Linked DNA regions of Homo sapiens. The protein of the gene in region 2 purifies or fractionates together with the protein of the main gene of each other region. This does not show direct contact. Each region holds a gene or a part of one and is shown on either strand. Other genes may lie near its edges.

Region 1 (7,670 bases), on a different chromosome or scaffold from region 2:
TTTTCAAAATCCACTGTGTGTGGTTTTGTTTGTTTGTTTGTTTTTTTGAGACGGAGTCTCGCCCCATTGCCCAGGCTGGAGTGAAGTGGCACGATCTTGGCTCACTGCAAGCTCTGCCTCGCGGGTTCACACCAATCTCCTCCCTCAGCCTCCCAAGTAGCTGGGACTACAGGCGCCTGCCACCACGCCTGGCTAATTTTTTGTATTTTTAGTAGAGACGGGGTTTCACTGAGTTAGCCAGGACAGTCTCGATCTCCTGACCTCGTGATCCGCCCGCCTCGGCCTCCCAGAGTGCTGGGATTACAGGCGTGAGCCACCGCGCCCGGCCCACTGTATGTTTTATACTTAGAGCATGTCTCAAGTTGGGCTTCCCTCATTTCGGGTGCTCAGTAACCATGTAAGGAATGGCTGTTGTATTGTACAGTACCGCCCTCTACAGGGTAGAAGGAGAGGGGATGGGATATGTTCTCAGTTTTGTTCTTTATTTCCCAGCGATTGACCAATGTTTGGAGTTAAAAGGTTGCCGCTTTTGATGTTCTTTGTGATCTCCAGCTCTGACTGAATTGTATCGTCACTAGCATCAGCACTTTGCTTAAAAATCAATTTTCATTCTTATAAAAGACAAAGTATTAATGACACAAATATGTCTATACACAGATGCTAATCCTGCTGAAATTGAACTCTTGGCTGGTAGGCAATGCCACCCTGTGGTAGCTCAAAAGTTTATTCATCAATATATGAAAGGCCAAATTCTAAGTAGTGAATGTGGCTTAGGAGTGTTAGTGTAGAATACATTAAACGTGAGTGCTTTTTATTCTGAATTTTGGAGTGAATGTATGTAGTAGCATGTAGTGAAATTAACTGTTAGGAGAAAACAGAGGTAAGAATTCCTGAGAAGTTGGTAAGATTGTTCTTTTACTGTAATTTTTGTTTTTTCTTCAGGGGTTGCAGATGGTGTAGGAGGCTGGAGAGACTATGGAGTTGATCCATCTCAATTCTCAGGGACTTTAATGCGGACGTGTGAACGTTTAGTAAAAGAAGGACGGTTCGTACCTAGTAATCCCATTGGAATTCTCACCACAAGCTACTGTGAGTTGCTGCAAAATAAAGTCCCTTTGCTCGGTAAGTGGGTATCTTATGTGTTTTCCTCTAAAGAAGCCCCCTAGATAGTTAAAAACAAAACCAAGAAAATCATTTATCGGACCAGCTTTTTTCTGAGGCTCTTCCTACTAAGCAGAGTGTGATAGAGAAACTATAGGCTAACCGCTGGGCGCAGTGGCTCACGCCTGTAATCCCAGCACTTTGGGAGGCTGAGGTGGGCAGATCACCTGAGGTCGGGAATTCGAGACCAGCCTGACCAACATAGAGAAACCCCATCTCTACTAAAAATACAAAAATTAGCCAGGCATGGTGGCGCATGCCTGTAATCCCAGCTACTTGGGAGGCTGAGGCAGGAGAATCACTTGAACCCCGGGAGGTGGATGTTGCGGTGTGCCGAGATGGCGCCATTGCACCCCAGCCTGGGCCACAAGAGTGAAACTCCATCTCCAAAAAATAAAAGAGAAACTATAGGCTAACCAGAATACGTAGTACTGCTTGGAGGGAATGTGGATAGGTACAGCCACTTCGGAAAACAATTTGGTATTAAATATGAACATATAGTATGCCACAGCAGTTGCACTTCTAGGTGTTTACCCTAGACTAGAGAAACTCTTGCACAATACGTGAACCAAAAGATAGGTATGAGAATGTTCTCAAAATGTTGCCAATAGCAGAGAACTGGGGACAACCTAAAAGTCTATCTGTTGTAGAAAAATGCATTGTGAAAAGAAACGACTTAAAGCTGCATGTTCTACTCAGGAACATGTTGTGAAGGGAAGAGAGAACATTGCAGAATTCCACCTGACAGTCTGATTCCATATATTTCAAGTTTAGAAACATAAAAAGTTAAAACTGTATTGTTGAGGGATTCTAAAATTTGGTAAAAGAAGAAAGAAGAGCAAGAGGAAAGAAAAGAAATGGTCTGGCCTGCAAAATTCAGTTCATTACCTGTGATGAGTTCAAGTTGTGTTTGGTCACCCCACACTGCTAACAGGTGATTAGTCGGTGAAATAACTTGGCACAAATTAGATCCCCGATAATCTTGTATTAGAAAACTTAAAACCAAGTATTTAGGGTTTGTTTATGTGGTATGCTAATGGAGCATCCTTTGGCCAGGCCTCTACGTTTGTTTGTTACATGATTTCCTGGGAACTTACCCAGCCTTCTAAGCAGTCTCTCAGAGAGGGTATTATTACGTTTCTGCTCATAGCCAGCATCTTTCTAGTTACTAGAAGGCCTCCTTCCCAGTCACCATTGACATTTAAAATCAGCCCCTGTTCGGCCAGGGGCGGCAGCTCACGCCTGTAATCCCAACACTTTGGGAGGCCGAGGTGGGCGGATCATGAGGTCAGGAGATTGAGACCATCGTGGCTAACACAGTGAAACCCTGTCTCTACTAAAAATACAAAAAATTAGCCGGGTGTGGTGGTGGGCACCTGTGGTCCCAGCTACTTAGGAGGCTGAGTCAAGAGAATGGTGTGAACCTGGGAGGCGGAGCTTGCAGTGAGCCAAAATCGCGCCACTGCACTCCAGCGTGGGCGACAGAGCAAGACTCCATCTCCAAAAAAAAAAAAAAAAAAAAAAAATCAGCCCCTGTTTAGCGTTAATGGAGATCACCACAGTTGTTATAGAATTTGCTTTCAGTTTAAGCCCTTTGTAAGGAGTTCTTTTTATCAGTCTGCTGTCTTCTGTCTTTGTGCTGTGATTAACTAACTTGTTTTCCTTCAAACTGAAAAGGGATCTTGTCTTGCAGTTTCAATATATACTGCTTTGTCTTAATTCCCTGTTTTGGACATGCAATCTGGAGCTTGTCTGGCATAGTGAAACATTCTAGATGCTATTTCTAGCACCTCTCTGTCAACTTGCTGTGTGACTTTGGGCAAGCCACTTAACCTGTGATCTCCTTGCTTCACATGTTAAATGGAGAGAGAGCCCCTAGACACAGATTCCAGGGGACTGCCTCCTGCATGTTCTCAAGAGTGGCTCTGCTGACCCTCTGACCCCCGATCATTTACTTTGACTTGAGATAACTGGTTACAAAACACGTAACCATCCTGATTTTACACTTTAGAAGCTTTGGTTTTTGCTGTGCCTTTTTCTTTTTCCTATTCCTACTTTCCCTTTCTGTTCACCCTCATGTAACTGGGAGATATTAATAAAATACATTTAAATTTAATATTAGAGAAAATAATATTTTCTTACATTGAATATTGTGATTACTTTTTTCTCCTAAAAGGCACATTGAAATAATCTTTCATCACCATGTTTGACACACCTTTTTTTCACAAAATCTACACATCTCTAGGCTGTTTGTAATGAAACTCAAGCATATTTTGACAAAGACAAGCTGCTGAGTTTTACTGAACTTCAGCTAGATATAATTGTAAATCATGACAACTTTACCAGATAAGTTAGTTAGGTAATTTTTTTTTTTTAATCCAGCAACTGCTAAAAAGCCTACAAAGCAATTCCAATATAAAAGGCAAGCTGGTAGCTGTAACCACTTATTTCTTTGACTTTCTAGCTGCGTTTGGGTCTAAGGGCATTACAGACTAATTGTTGGCATATATGATTTCCTCAGAAACCTTTAAATGGATTGATAAGGTCCTAAGCAGCCAGAGTATCTTAAGAACCTGAGGGGTTGGTCCTAATAAAGTTATCCCTTTTTCTGCCATACAAAAGGCTTAGTAGTAGTTTACAAAATAAGGAGCTGGGTGATAAAAATATTTCCATTTGAGCATGAGGGACTCGCCTGGGTTCCTGTCTATATGGGTCATTTGTCTAAACATCCTACACTGTGGTTCTCAGCACCGCTTTTCTTACTCATCTTTGCCTGCTTGTGCCTCTCCAAACACGTGAGAATGATTAGCTCTTCTCCCAATATTAGGCTGCTGGGGCCTGAGCCACGTGCACACATCAGGAATTTGAGGAGGCAAAAGAGGAGGGTACACTCCAAGCCCAGATGGTTCTGTAAGGCTGGGCTTATACTTGTTGGTGCTGCTTTGGATACTGAAGCTCAGTCACTCACCAGGACTGTTTTGATTCCAACTCAGCGAGTTACTGTCGCAGGGTAGCAAAGGATAGCCTGGCTTCGTCAGTGAGTATATAAGGAGTCACATGAGTCCTTCTTGCAGCAGAATTTTCAAGGATGTGCTACTCGGGTTGTTTTTCTTTCTCAGAATATAATCCCATGAGTTTTCAGAAGATGTTTTGGGTGGTGATCTATTAATGATAAAAGGTTAGAGTTGATGTGCACTGAGTTAGGAAGGAAAGGTAATGGGCAATCTTTGTCCTACTGTAAGCTATGGAGCGGGTTATCTGACAGCACTACCAGTGAGTTACAGTACCCGTGCTTTGCTTTTCGTTGACACTTAATGGCTAGCATAGTATGAGTTAGTACTAACGCATATACTGTAGATAACAAGGAAATGGAATTTCTGGGCATTAGCATGAGAAAGACATGTATATTTTTAAGTGTTTTTAAATTACTTTGTTAGGACAAAATTAATAATAAAAATTACCCATGATCCCACTAAAACAACTATTAATATTTGAGTGATTATGCTTTCAGATTTTTTTTCTGTGTGTATGTGTGCATAGAATAATGGTAACTTGAATTGAGTCTACTATGTGCCCACAACAGCCCCATGAGGTAAATACATAGGTACTTAATTTTATTCCCCTCCACCTTTTTTTTTTTTTTGAGACAGAGTCTTGCACTGTTGCCCATGCTAGAGTGCAGTGGTGCAATCTCAGCTCACTGAAACCTCTGCCCCCCGGGTTCAAACAATTCTTGTGCCCCAGCCTCCGAAGTAGCTGGGATTACAGGTGTGCACCACCACGTCCAGCTAATTTTTTGTGTTTTTAGTAGAGAGGGGATTTCACCATGTTGGCCAGGCTTAGTCTCGAACTCCTGGCCTCAAGTGATCCACCCGCCTCAGCCTCTCAAAGTGCTGGGATTACAGGCATGACCCACCACGCCTGAACTATTCTCCATTTTGTTAGGAAGAAACAAGTCTGGAGAGAATAAGTGACTTGCCATGGTCACATAGCTGGAAAATGATGGCACACTGGGATTTAATATGGCTGGTTCCGTGGCCCATTTGTGTTGTTTTCCTTTTAACCATCATTTTAATAATTTAGACTTTGCCTATTGCTTTTTTAAAAAAATTGACTTCTAGTAAACTTTACTCTTTTTGGTGTACAGTTCTTTAGGTTTTGACATCATCTTTTTTTGTTGTTGTTAAGGAAACTTTCATATGAGTTTGTAATCTACTTATTTTATAGTTATCTTTCCTTTCAAATATATTTTACATAATCTTAATGGCTATAAAATAGCCAACACTATCTGTTATAAGGGTTTGACATGACTTAACTAATTTTAATTCTTAGAAAAATTCTATGAGGTACTTACTGTTATCCCTGTTTTTGTGGATGAGGAAACTGGGGCACAGAGAGGTTAAGTAGTTTGCCCCATCACAGAGCTGGGAAGTGGCAGAGCTGGGATTCAGACACAGGCAGGAAGCAGGCTGACTCCAGAGCCTGTACTCCTGAGTATTACGTGATGGTGTATCTTTGCACTGTATGGATGTACTGTAATTTATTTAACCAGTCCCTTATTTTAGATGTTTAGATTGTTTCCAGTTCTTTCTCATCTTAAGTAATATTTTTGTACTTAAGTCTTGTTTGCCCTTCTAATTATTTTCTTAGCGTAAATTCTCAGAGATGGAATTGCTAGATGAAAGGAGGTACATTTTTCCGGGCTATCTTGCGCTCCAGGAAAGTTGTTTACTTTTACTTTTCACTCCCGCAGAATGAATGTTCTGTGCAGTGGGCATGTTCCCTACACTTTGCCAACAATATGCATTATCTTCTTTTGACTCGTGTTAAACTAATAGGTGAAAAGCGTTACTAGTGAGGTGGTCATTTTTTCATATATTTACAGATCATCTACACTTATTTCTTTGTGAACTGCCTGTTTTTCTATGTTGCCATTTTTCTGGTGGCGGTAGGTAGGTTTAACTGTTAGTACTTGAGAGTGGTCTCTGCTAGTTGTGCCATTAGCCTTTCAGTCTAGGGAAGATTCTGTGGCCCGTGCACAGCAAAGCTATGCAGAGTTCTTTGCCCAGAGTCTCTGTCGAATGAACAGGTTGATTCCACAAGCTGCCTGCAGAAATTTGGTCTTGTTACCTCATAGTGAGTGAGTCATTAGTCTCCAATAAAAGTTCTTCCTGACCTCAACAGATGGAAATCTGGTTTAAAATTGTAGTTATGTGCCCTGTCTTAAATGTGAGTGAATTTTGTGGCCAATGACTAATAAGAAATGTCGGGAAAATGTAACATTTTCATTCTGGCATTGAAGTATTAAAACTTAATATCTCAACAACATGTTTTTGAGCATTTGGCATAGATGACAGCACTGTTGAAATGAAATAGTGTGATTAAATACCAGTCATTTTTATTGCTTTCTGTCAATGCAAATGGAAGAATTCAGATCATCTGTGGCCCAATTACTATGTATAATACAAATCCTTTTTCTTTCCCCACCGTGTTAACCCTGATCAGGATTTTATTGATATTCGTAGAGGATGTGGAGCATAACTAAGAAAGGTCCTGTTTAGGCAAAGGAGATTGAAATTATGGTGTGTTGCTCTGTGGGGTCATGTGTTAAAATGTGTGTGCAAAGGCAGCCTAGGAAGAAAAAATAAATGGAGATGATTTTTGTTTCTAGGTAGCAGCACCGCCTGCATTGTGGTGCTGGACAGAACCAGCCACCGCTTACACACAGCAAACCTGGGCGATTCAGGCTTCCTGGTTGTCAGGGGTGGTGAAGTCGTGCACCGATCAGATGAGCAGCAGCATTACTTCAACACTCCATTCCAGCTCTCAATCGCTCCCCCTGAAGCCGAGGGAGTCGTCTTGAGCGACAGGTAATCTCCCCTCTCAGCCATTAAGTGTGAGCAGGACGTGGCTCATTCATAGTCCCCTCCTGTCCCCCTTGAGTGCAGTGAGGTAGGCATTTCCATGAAAAGAATACACTGAGAATGTTCTCATCAAGAGGACCTTTTAGTTTAACTTTGAAAGATACTTTTCTGGAACTAGATAATCTAGCTAAGTGGAATTCTGATAAATACCCAATAATTTGACAAGACCATGAAAATACTATTTCAGGCTTACAGAATATCAATTTTTCATATCAACACCACATGGTACATACAGTACTTTATTAAATTGTGCTGGAGAAATGAGTCATTGTTCATGCATGCCATTGCTTGTACAAGATTTTGCATACATTGTTAGGGAAGAGCACAAACAGACATCTGCGTTATTTATTGGAGTAACTTCCTGATTCTCTAGACCTCTTACTACATGCATCAAATAGAACTTGCAGGAAATGGAGTCAAAATGGTCTTAAGTGACTGGGCACGGTGACTCACGCCTGTAATCCCAGGACTTTGGGAGGCTGAGGCGGGTGGATCACTTGAGGCCAGGAGTTCAAGACCAGCTTGGCCAACATGGTGAAACCCCATCTCTACTAAAAATGCAAAAATTAGCTGGGCGTGATGGCG
Region 2 (6,923 bases):
TTTGTTTGGCAGGTAGCTTTTACAGAAAATCTGTTTCCATAGAAGCTAATGGATTGCTTAAATTTAGGAGTAACAAAACCTGCTTCTATGCTAATCATAAAAAAGCTAACCCTGCAACCTAATGAATGTCATTTATTCATGCATGCACTGAAATTATACATTTAATAAATATTAATTGAGCACCTACTATGCTTCAGTTGGCGAAAGACAAAATCAGCAAATTCAGGCAGAAAAGTGAGTCCAGTAAATCAATTACAGCAGTGTTCAATGAGTTCTACAAAAAAGATGTGCTCCAGATGATGAATGCGTTCAGGTGTCAGGTCTTAAAGCAACTTGGGGAAGGCTTCTGGAAGAGGTTACTTTTGAACTTAAATGTTGGGTAGAAGTTAACTGTGTGTGGAATAAGGAGATGGGAGTTGGGGAGGAAAATATAATTAATTCCTGTAAGAGTATTCAGTGTGTAAAAAGAAATAATGGCATCATATTTTGTTGCTATTGAACCACTGAGAACACATTTAATATGGCTGCCGAGAATGTGGAAAGCTGGAGAAAGAAAGGTGACAGGTGATGGAAAGCCCTATGTGTTACATGGAGGAGTTTGAATTTTATCCATCCACAAAATAAAATATATATATATATATATATATAAATGTGAAACCATTGAAAATTTTGACCTCATTTGAGTTTCAGGAAGAACATTCTGGGGAAACAGTTGAGAGTGTAAAGAGATAAAAGACAAAATTCTTGTTAAAGGCCTGAAATGAAAAGATTTTGAACTTGTACAGGTGGAAATAGAAGAGGAGCTAGATATTTCAGACCAGAGGACAGATGGATGTAGACCATGAGAAAGAAAAGAAGAGTGTTTCCAGGAGACTGGGTCTGCCAACACTTCCAGTTTTTAGTACAGGAAACTGGTGTAAAGTGGGATGCTCCAACAAATTTGGGGAATCAGTAATAGATAAATTCAATCAATCATTAAAACTAAGGCCTTCAATTTAAATGAATATACACTGCTTAAAAAGAAAGCAAAACATGACGACATTTATTATGTAAACTATCAAATGTTTATTTAAATTTCCATTTAAAATATTTTCAAGTAAAATATGTACAAAAATGGTTATAAAATGGTTGAAGCAACTAGAAGCGTGACAGGTATAATACATATAAATACAACCAAAATTCAATTCAATGCAAAGTTGAATGACATCATATTGCACCAAAATTTATTCCATACAAAAGCACATGCATCAAGAGTTTCCATAAGATGAAAACAAACACACTTACTTCATAGCATCTTACCACTTACTTACACAAATAGCCCATAAACACCATCTGGCATTGTGATTGCAGTACCAGAACTCTCCCCAGAGGGAACTCATTTAGCTATAGAAGAATCCATTTTATTTCACATATCACATGCTTGTGCAGGCATCAGTGCTAGGAACCCTAAGAAACAACGCAATCCACAGATGAAAGTCTCTCTGCACCATTTATATCTTCATAGATAAATATCTTAGTTCTAATATGATTGGAATGTGGATGCAGAAATAAAATGCAGTTTTGCTCTTTAAGAATTTTATCAATGTAAGACATTGTATTAAATTTGTATAAAATACACACAATCCCCTCTACTAAGTTTCATGATCACAGTGCCAGAGTGAAGAAACTCTGCTTGAGTTGAGGACCAGTTAGTTAGGATATTGAGGATCACTCTTTTTCAGCTGGATCTCTCTGTTCTTGTGTTTTCAATCACTAGACCAAACCCACGATGCCCCTGAAATTCTGGGAATGGTACAAGGTCATAACTAATGCATTCCAGATCCAAGTTAGGGATTTAGCTGGTCTATAAATTACAGTTTAAGCACAGATCAAAGAGATGGCTGCCAGCATATCCTTCAAGGGTAACCTGAGTTCCAAGACTTTCCCACTGGGCTAAATGGACTCCACTTGTTGCAAATTATAAATGCTTGTCACAGAATATGAAAAATATTTAAATACATTCATAGATAGTACCTAATAATATGTTAACATAAACATAACAACACACATATTATTTTTCTACCCCTTGGCAACTGAAAATGAAGTTACCATTCCTAGGCCAAATTTTTAGACAAAGCTTTCTAAAACCATCTTTATAAAGTAAATTCAGATATGCTTACAATAAAAAGACATAAAAGATTCATCCTGAGATGAATTCTGAGTCAATAACTAAAAACCATTTCTACCAGTGCATCACTACCATGTAATCCATTCTACGCAAGCTCTACAAATATTGAGTCAAATCCTGTCTGTCAGAAAATGAAGACCCAATAAGTTTGCCGAAGTATTCAGTACAAGAGGCCATTTGTCTTGCCTTTTTCTGACATGTGCATACTATAAAATCACAGGTAGCCAACATTTAGTATCAGTAAAAAACAACTACGTTTGTTCACCTGTTTGGCATAGGGAGAAAACAATGTATCTCATAGCATTAAATGATACAGCCTTAACACATATGATGCTCATATTTGCAAAGTTCCCAAATGTTGAGAAGTTCTAGTGAAAAGTCATACTATTGTGCAAAGATGAAAATTTGGAGCCAATGTCTGTATTCAAAATAACCAAAATATATTTTAAAGCAAAATATATCCTGATACTACTATAGATTCTAGGAATTGTCCTAAAAGAGTAAAGTGTTGTTTCCTTTCTGAACATGAATAACATCAAAGGAAGAACCCAGTTCTTAAGACTTAAGTAGGAAATTTATAGAAATTTGATTTATACCAGTAGTAATAACATTCATAAGGAAAAACTATTAGGTAACAATTTTCTCCAAGAAGAGGATCAGATTACTTAAAATTGTTGGAGAATTCTGGTTGTTTGTGCAATAATCATAGTGATTTACATTGCTTTTCTTCTTTCAGAGCAATAAGAAAGTTATTTGGGGTAGTACTTGAAATAATTCATATACACAGTCATTTAACATAGATCGTTTCTAGTCGAGTATGAGCATACATTCATGGGAACAATCTGTTTCATTCTTCAAAGTATGTTTGTACTTTGGAATGAAGGAGAAATTCTAGGGAAAAATTAATTCAGAAATCTTTTGAAATAAGACAGTTCAAACCTAGGACCAGGTAACCACATTGCATTGCCTCCCAGTGTGATATGACTGTGCTTCCAAGTATGCATCTAATAAAGTTAGTTAGTAGGAAAATTTGATGTCTAAATTTTATAATACACATTTAAGTCAGACCACTCACAACCCAACAAATTATACAGCTTTAACATGCAAAGGCCTAATAGGTTTTCCCACAAGATGCTGTAATAATACCCTGTCACACAAGGTACTCAAAATACAGTCACCACTGCAAAAGAGATACCTGTGCATTACTCTTTTTTTCCCCTCTGGCTTTCAGCACGGCCTTCTGAGGCTTTAACAAGAGGTAATAAGGACTTAGCAAGCAGTTCTCCTAACCAATACATTAATTCACTTGAAAGTCATACTTTTAAAAAAAATCAGTAGTGTATATGTTGAGGAAAAAAAGCATGTTCACTCTGGAACAAAGTTGGCCCTCTATGGCTCTCAGATGCCTAATGCTCTACAGTTTTGTGAGAGAATTGTTAACTGTAAAGCTGTAAAGGCGGTTATTGGTACTATAAATGTACACTTGATTCAAGTACGCTGAAACACACACATGTAACAGCTATTAGGACACTGTAACCGTCCTCTGTGTATTTTAAGGCCAATAGTAACAGAGAGGAGGGAAAAAAATAACTACCAAGAAAATAAAACTAATGGGTAGATTCACACTAAGAAAATCTAGGTAATTATATAAATTCATTGTTATGAGGTTGTAGAAAGGACAGTTATCTCACGACATATGGAAAATTGGTGAATTTCCTGTGAGACTATGATTTATGCTTTTGTGAATGTATACCTGATCTAAAATTAGACAAAACATTTATTTTTAGACACCAACTAATTGGAAAATATAAGGAAAGAAATAATTATCTCCCAAAATTGACTATTAAAAAATAATTTTTAAGTACAGTACTAATAAACTAAGGATGACCTAGAGAGCATACCTTTAGCTATTATTTAAAAATCTTTTTTTTTTTTTTTTTTTTTTTTTGAGATGAAGTCTCGCGCTCTTGTCCCCTAGGCTGGAGTGCAATGATGCGATCTTGGCTAACTGCAGCTTCTGCCCCTTGGGTTCAAGTGATTCTCCTGCCTCAGCCTCCCGAGTAGCTGGGATTACAGGCGCCTGCCACCACGCCCGGCTAATTTTTATATTTTTAGTTGAGACAGGGTTTCACCATGTTGGCCAGGCTGATCTCGAACTCCTGACCTCAGGTGATTCGCCCGCCTCAGCCTCCCAAAGTGCTGGGATTACAGGCATGAGCCACCGTGCCGGACCTATTTAAAAATCTTTTTGAAGTACAGTACTAATAAACTAAGGACTACCTAGAGATCACACTTTTAGATATTATCTATTTTAACATAGATTAAAAATACTGTTTATATGAAAATTAAGCTTAAATACACGTATAGGTAATAATTATTTTGCCCATATACAAGTAATGTAAACAGAGGCTATCAAGGTGACCCATTATCTACTCTAATTTATATCCACTATGAGCTTCTTCCCAGTTGTTATACAATGCCATATTTTAATTCCTGACTGAATGGTTAGGAAAGCAAAATGTAACTCTGTAAACTTGATCAGCACTAATGTACAACATATTATGGAGGGTAAAGTGAAGCAAGAATATATTCAAGTAAAATAAAATGTCTTTCATGGGCATTCAAATCCCACATCTCTCTATATTTCTTTCCCAACTAAGAGCTATAATTAAAATCCCATTTATTATTTTTCTATAGTTCAGAATCAACGTATAAAATATGATGAAAGTGAAACTATCTCCCTATATATCACATCATATATATTGTGAGAAAGTCACTTGTTATATATGGATATTTCAATTAACTCATAAATTTTTAAAAACATATCCTCCATACTTATTTCTAACAGAAAAAAATAACAGGAATTATTTTACTTTACTCACATGGACAATGCAGATTTTGTGGGGGTAGAAGTGTACACAACTTTGCTGGTCTTCTTCAACAAAATTAGTACAGAATTCCTAATACAAAGTTAGGTTCAGGACCTCGAATGGAACATGTCTAAGTGAGAGGCACTGAAGCTTAGGTTTCATTAGCTTCCTGCGAGATCCACCTATGCACAGCAAACAACTAATTTTTAATATTTCTCTGACTATATTGCATAACATTAAAATATTGTTACCTTCAGTCCATACTATCTTTCATTTCCTGATTCTCTGGCCTTCGGTTTTTTATCTTTTCATACCTTATACCTCAATTACAAAAGATCAACTTTAACAAAGGTCAGAGTTGCTCCCTTTCTTAGCAGTATATTCATCTGCAAATCAAGATAAAATAATGATTTTCCTGTAGACTGATTACAGTTCATGAGGAATTCTGTTATGTAATTATACTCTTGTTAACCCTCTATTGATATGTCAAATTGTAATTGGGGAAACAATTTTACCAGACACATAAGACGAACAGGAAATCTGTTTCAACGTGAATATCTTAGTGTTGGAGAAACCGTCATGCATTGCTAACGTAACCTAATAAGCTGTCCAAATTTTGTGTCCACAGGGCTGAGGAGCTACAGTCTAAATGCATACGCATGTTGGGAACCGAAGTCAGCCATCTTCCCTAGGACAAATCTTTACTCTTCTAAAGAAGGACAAGAATAAGGTCTACTTTCAGCTAACCATTTATAAGGTTCAGTTTTCATTGGATCAAAGGAATATAATCTAATACTTTTTAAATGGGGTCAAAACAGTATTATAAGGAAAATATTTACTGCAAATATTTATAATTGTGTAAGGAGAATCATTCTTTTTAAAATCAAGTTGTGTTTTAGCTTTAGAATCTTTTAAAATCACAAGTATTTGAGAATCCATCCCCACAAAAATTAAAAAATACTATATTAGTTATTTTAAACAGTATTCATTACTTTTACTGTTTATGTTATAATAAACTTATGTATATAAACATTTGAATATGCATGGTACAAAGTACAAGTACAGAACATGTAGTAAGTAGTATGTGCATGTATGTGTGTGTGTGCATATCGTATAAAAATATGAGAAAAATTTTACTTATATAAAAACATATATATAAATAAGTGTTCAGGAGAGTTTTTGAGAATCTGCTTTACATACTGCAATTTTGAGTGAAAATTATGGATATTAATTTCCTGATTAAAGGAACTGTGTCTTCTCATGATGAGTCCTAAAAATAAGCCAAAATACTACTTAATCTCCATCACTTTTTTTCTTAATTACTGGCTGACTTTTTTTCTGCGTGAAATGGCATTACAATGGCAGGGAAATTTAATAATGCAAAAATCACTTTTGAAAATGAGAAAGAATAATTCTAGTTACCTTTTAAATTGATACTTTTAAAGAGAAATTCAAATCAAAAATAAATAAATTAAAGTCTGAGACCAATTTGCCACTGTGAATATAAGCACATTAACCCCAGGAAGAGCCAAGAACTACACAAACCTCTCTATGAGAATTTACCAGTCTTCTTTCATTTGGCAAGAAAAAGCTCAGGAAAATTTGCTTGTTTAAATTCTATGAGCCTAGTCTATGGGGAAAAAAAAAATAGGAATATGAAAGAAATTCTTACCTCCAGCAACATATCATAGGGAGAGATGTGGACAAATGAACAATATTTACTGGAAATAGGAATTATAAATCAAATTTTGAAAACCCTATGCTAAGGAAGGAAGGAGTTATTATAAATTCACTCAGAGACCCAAACGTTAGGTTCAGCTAAAGAAATGTCAGTCTTGGATATATATTAAATGTTTTCAAGAGCAAAATTGAAATTACTGAATTGG

The links. Proteins that work in one complex are often made in the same cells at the same time.
Region 1: the proteins of SLC7A11 (region 2) and PPTC7 purify together in Homo sapiens (affinity purification with mass spectrometry; 2 studies listed by BioGRID and IntAct, with this or other methods). This does not show direct contact.

Annotation. Positions count from the first base shown.
Region 1 is NC_000012.12:110,545,241-110,552,910, reverse strand, and holds part of PPTC7 (protein phosphatase PTC7 homolog), read left to right. Parts: intron 1-942; coding exon 943-1,122; intron 1,123-6,832; coding exon 6,833-7,031; intron 7,032-7,670. UniProt on the Homo sapiens protein: Protein phosphatase that plays an essential role in mitochondrial metabolism and biogenesis. Positively regulates biosynthesis of the ubiquinone, coenzyme Q. Dephosphorylates the ubiquinone biosynthesis protein COQ7 which is likely to lead to its activation.
Region 2 is NC_000004.12:138,163,052-138,169,974, forward strand, and holds the end of SLC7A11 (cystine/glutamate transporter), read right to left. Parts: 3' UTR 1,046-6,923; downstream 1-1,045. UniProt on the Homo sapiens protein: Heterodimer with SLC3A2, that functions as an antiporter by mediating the exchange of extracellular anionic L-cystine and intracellular L-glutamate across the cellular plasma membrane.